Regions from separate parts of the Homo sapiens genome. Here region 2 is linked to region 1. A link means that fine-mapping ties the variant in region 1 to the expression of a gene that starts in the linked region. Tissue or cell type: fibroblasts. Region 1 holds a variant in brackets; the other region holds the start of a gene. All regions are shown on one strand. Distances are from middle to middle.

Region 1 (2,628 bases):
AAAGTTTATTTTATTTTTTTAGAGACAGGGTCTCACTCTGTTGCCTAGGGTGGTCTTGAACTCCTGGCCTCAAGTGATCCTCCCACCTCAGCCTCTGTAGTAGCTGGGATTACAGGTTCAAGCCACTGTGCTTGGCTAAGATTTTTAAAGTAATATATTGTGAGATGAAAAGCATCAACTACCAAGGCAAAGACTGATGAATGTGACCGCGTTAAAATGGAAAACTTAATCCAAAACACAGAAAAAAGTACAAAGACAAGCTACAGACTGGGAAACAATATTTACAACATTTATAACCCACCAGCAATTATGACCAAGGAAATATAAAAACACTTACAAATGAGTCAGGAGACAAGCAACACAGTAGAAAAATGGGCAAAAGACATTAACAGGCAATTGACAAATTTGGGGACACAAACAGAATGGCCAATAAACCACTAGTAATTGTGAAATGCAAATTAAACCCCCAACAAGATATAATTTCACTTCTATTAGATCAGCAAGAGTTAGAGCCTGAAACTATCAGGTGTTGAAGACATGGAGCTTCCAGAGTACTCATATGGTGCTGAGGGAGCATGTATCTGGGAAAGGCAGAGATGCACACAGCTTGTACCTGTAGTCTCTAGGCATACATCTTGGTGAGATTCTGCCCACACACAAGGGACCAGGCACAGAAATACTTATGGCAGTACTGTTTGTGATAGTAAAAAAAACAACCTAAATCTCCCTTTTTTTTTGAGACAGAGTCTCGCTCTGTTGCCCAAGCTGTAGTGCAGTGGTGCGATCTCGGCTCACTGCAACCTCCGCCTTGCAGGCTGAAGCAATTCGCTGCCTCAGCCTCCCGAGTGGCTGGGACTACAGGCGCCCGCCACCATGCCCGGCTAATTTTTGTGGTTTTAGTAGAGACGGGGTTTTACCATCTTGGCTGGGTTGGTCTTGAACTCCTGACCTTGTGATCCACCTGCCTCAGCCTCCCAAAGTGCTGGGATTACAGGTGTGACCATCGCACCTGGCCCTAAATCTCTTCAATAGGAGACTGGATACATATGTTGTGAAACACTTATACAATGAAATACCGTATAGGAGTAACAGCACATTGGTTACACATACCCACATGACTCTGAAACCTAGTATTGAGCCAATGTTAAAACGCTTGAGTTACACACCCCTATTTAATGAAGGACAAGGAAATGCATGGGCATGAGAGGGAGCCTGGCTGGGGGAGAAGTGTGGTCTGAAGGGTACTGGGACCCTGACTGTGCCGTGTGGCTTCATTCCTTCCTAAGCTGGTTGGGGCACATGGATGCCTATTACAGCATTCTGTACTGTGACTTATAGCTTTCAATATGTCTTAAAATATTTGAAAATAAAATGCACTAAGTATGCATATGGGTTAGGACTGACAATAAACAATAAAAAGTATCTTTTCAGGGCAATGAGGACATGAACACTTTAACCCTTACCCCCAATATTTTCTTTAACATTGTGATTAGCAAACACACACACACACAAACACACACACACAAACACAC[ACAAACACACG/G]AACACACATGCAAACACACACACACACACACACACACACACACACACACACACGTTCTGGTTCAACCAGGTGGACCAGCCACATGTCGGTTTCACTGCCACCCACATCCATACCTGTCTCCCAACTGCACCAAAACATAATTGAACATAAGAAAGACATAAAAATAGACAGGATACTTCAACAACATTTAGGAGGCAGAAGGAAGATGGAGAAATAGCACGTGACATGCCAGTGGTGTGTAGGCTGACCTTGGTCAGGGAGAACCAATGTGCTTTGGGCTGACTGAGGCCATGTGGAGTCATTATTAGACGGATGTGCTGTGGTCACACAGGGGAGTGCTCTTTTGTTTAAGGGCAACAGGCATTGTATCAGCAACTTACTCCTAAGTGGTTTTGGAAAAAAGCTACAGACACACACAAAGGCAAAAGCGGTAAAAGGTTAGCAATCGGGGGGGCTGGGCGCAGCGGCTCACGGCTGTAATCCCAGCACTTTGGGAGGCTGAGGCAGAGGGATCACTTGAGGTCAGGAGTTCCAGACCAGCCTGGCCAACATGGCGAAACCCTGTCTCTACTAAAAATACAAAAAAATTAGCCGGGCAGGGAGGCACGCGCCTGTAATTCCAGCTACTCAGGAGGTTGAGGCAGGAGAATTGCTTGAACCCGTGAGGCGGAGGTTGCGGTGGGCCGAGATTGCACCATTGCACTCCAGCCTGGGAAACAGAGCGAGACTCCGTCTTTAAAAAAAAAAAAAAAAAAAGGTTTGCAATGGGAAATTTAGGTTGGGGTATAGTAGTTCTTTGTGTTATTTTTGCAACTTTTCTGTAATGTAAAAATGTTTTAAAATAAACAGTAAAGAAGAAAAATAGGTTATTTTTTTTCCTAGGGTTTTAAATAATTTTAAACCAAAGATAAATCTGTATTATGGTGATCTCACCTTTGTAACCTGTAGGTCCCCGATGTTTAATTTTAGAGCTCCAATTGCTGTTTTACACAGGATCACTGCCTCATCACTACTTTTCACCTAAGACATCAAAAACAAAAACAAGAAACCTCAGAATGTGGGCAGTTGACTAACAAAGGAAGCTA
Region 2 (2,698 bases), 38 kb after region 1:
TCCCTGCTACCCGCGCACGACCCTGCCCCACCCCCTCCGTGCCCGCCCCCCGGCCTCAGGCGGCCGCTTACCTCCTGGTTGTATGACCGCAGAGCTTCCATAATCACATCCTCCTCACCCGTCTCCACGGCTTCTGCAACCGCCCGGGGCTCCATGGCGCGCCGGGGAAGGCGGGACGGGCCCTTCCTCAGCCGTTCCGGGCCGCAGTTCGCCGGCCCCGCCCTGGCCCAGAAAGCCCCGCGCCAGCGCGCGGGGGAGGCCGGGACGGGGCGCGGCGTCTGGTGGCGCTTTAACGGGGCGCAGCGTCTGGTGGCGCTTTAAGGGGGCGCGGCCTGAGGCAGAACTGGCGGCTCGGAGGTTTTAAGACCCGAGTCGAGGGGCTGAGTCGCTCTGAACCGAACTGACCCCTCTCCTTGTGACCCGCGCTTCTTGGGCCAGAAGTTCCAACAGGAAACGATCTCAGCCCCCACCGTGCCCTGCCACACACACAGTGACGCCCCTCGAGCTCCACAGAACCGATGGGATGTAGAGGGGAAAGCCGAAGTGGAAAGGAATTTTCAGTCCTGGGCCATTGGGTTCGTTAGGCGTTTGCTGGGGAATGCAGGCGAACGGGATTCCCAGGTCCCTGCCTTTGTGGAGCTTATGTTCCAGAGGGGAAGGGGGACAAGGAAAAACAAAAGGACACGAGGCGGTCACAGGGCTGTGCTTCAAAAGAAGCAAAAGGCGACTGCTGGGCTGCAACGGGCTGTGAGGAAGTGCTGTTTTTGCTGACACCGGACGGTGGGAAGTGAGCCGGGAAAAGACTGGAGGAGCCACTCCAGGCAGAAGGAGCAGCACTTGCAAAGGTGGAGGGGCCGAGAGAAAGGGGAGCAACCCAGTCTGGCCTGGACTCAGTTCCCTCTTGAAAAGCAAAGATCCTGCGTGTCCGTTTCAGTGGCCGTCATGAGGATTCAGTGACGCACAGGAAGCGCGATCCACTCGCTCTTCTAACAAGTGCCCGGGAGCAAAGGCGTCTACGGCCCCCAGTCCCCGCGCCGCCTCCCAGTCTCTCTCCCGGCTTCACTTTCCTGTAGTGCGTTCTGTACGGCTGTATTCGACGCGGCGCGCACTCGCAGGCACGAGCGAGGCGCCGATCTCCACTTGACAGAGGAGGCACCCCTGCCCCCACCACACCCAGTGCTCCTCGCGGGCTTCTGCCCGAGGGGTCTGCTCCTTCCTCATGACCCGCCTGTGAATCCTTCCTAACCGTTAGGACCTAACCCACAGAAGCGTCTTTCCACCACCATCGTCTAGGCACTGAGCAAGCAAACGGCCCCGCCCCGCCCCACGTTCACAGGAACACCAAACGTCACATCCGCGGTGCTGCTGTAATCCCAGCACCTTGGGAGCCCGGCAGGCGGGGGCTGCAGTGAGCTGAGATCGCGCCACTGTCTGCGCGACAGTGCTGAAAATAAGCCACAGATATGCCCATCGCTTCCGCGCCCGGCAGTTCCCCACCCTCGGCCCTAAGCCGGAAGTCAGCGAGCCCGAAGCGGAAGGGGCTGGGCTATCTAGGGGCGTGGTCGGTGCGGAGGCGGGGCCATCGCTAGCTGGGGGCGGGGCCGGAAGCTCTTTCCCCGCGACTGCGCCACGTCTGAGGCGGCTGTGGCCGCGTCGGTGTCCGCGTCGAGGAGCCGGGGCAGGGCACGATGGCGGACTGGGCTCGGGGTGAGCGCGGGAGAGCGGAGCCGTTGGGGGCAGGGCCGGGCCGAAACCGACGCCGCTGCCTGTAGAGCCGCGTGCGCCTGCCTCTGGCCCAGCTGGGGTGACCTCGGCCGAGAGGACCCTGTCAGGGGGGCGGATTCGGATCCTTCCGGGTCCGAGCAGGGCCGGGTTTCGGCCGGCACTGCCGTTAGGACCGAAGGCGCGCGTGGCGGCCCAGCAGCTCCAGCGAGGGGTCGCGCAGCAGCGGGGTCTCCCCACTCCCCGCCGCCCCCTGTGAGATCGTTCTGCATGGGTTCGGGGTGAGCGGGAGTCGGCATTCGACAGGTCCCGAGGCCAGGCCCTAGGAGTAGAGGCTGTGCTCCGCTGGTGTCCAAGCAGGACTCTTACTTTGGCCTCGGTGGCCCCATTTCCCCTCCTGGAGCCCGTGTTCTTGTCTGCAAAGTGGGATATTGATGCCTGTCTCTGTGAGGTGTTATGATGATTAAAGGAATTTATAAATATGAAGTGGCTGGAAGGACGCTGGCATCCCTTCCTGACACTGAAGCTAGGGAGGAGGTGGTTCTCACGCACCTGATGTGACAGAACTTCCTTATCCCCTGGCCCAGCCTGTCACAGGCCAGGCCTCTGCGAGCACTCTGCCCTGGGTGTTGCAGGAAGCCCCATGCGGGATGCAGACCAAGGATCCCGCTCCTGGTCGACCTCAGCTCCCGTCTCGGGGAAATTGGGAACTTTGCTCAGCCATTTTCTGTGCGGTAAAGGGCCTTCCCAATGTTCTGTCCTGGTTCCTTGCCACCTCTTCAGGACCTAGCTCAAAGGTCGTCTCTGCAGGAGCCTTTCTGCTGCCTTGCTGGGTACTTTTCCCAAGTCTTTTCTATGCTCTTAGCAGAGTTTACTCTTTTTCTATAAGAATGGGCTCCACATACACAGATGGTGACCTCCCTGGATGCAAGTGTCACATCATACTAGCACCCCAGGGCTGGGTCCAGTTTTTGCT

The links. PIP is the estimated chance that this variant, and not a neighbour inherited with it, causes the effect.
Region 2: it holds the start of BET1L, and the variant in region 1 is fine-mapped to the expression of BET1L in fibroblasts (GENCORD, PIP 0.95).

The regions. Positions count from the first base shown.
Region 1 is chr11:244,610-247,237 of GRCh38, reverse strand. It overlaps PSMD13 (proteasome 26S subunit, non-ATPase 13), which reads right to left. Exons shown (of 13, transcript NM_002817.4): 6 at 2,477-2,563. Among named protein-coding and RNA genes, the nearest start is that of PSMD13, 8.9 kb to the right of the region's middle. The variant ACAAACACACG/G (reference allele first, on the strand shown) is at 1,533.
Region 2 is chr11:206,312-209,009 of GRCh38, reverse strand. It overlaps BET1L (Bet1 golgi vesicular membrane trafficking protein like), which reads left to right and starts at 1,611. Exons shown (of 4, transcript NM_001098787.2): 1 at 1,611-1,707. The coding sequence starts at 1,689. It overlaps RIC8A (RIC8 guanine nucleotide exchange factor A), which reads right to left and starts at 1,302. Exons shown (of 10, transcript NM_001286134.2): 1 at 72-1,302. The coding sequence starts at 155. RefSeq lists enhancers at 1-21, 96-715, 691-860, 716-1,337, 1,884-2,385 and 1 more and silencers at 1-29, 100-389, 390-588, 1,650-1,769, 1,880-1,939.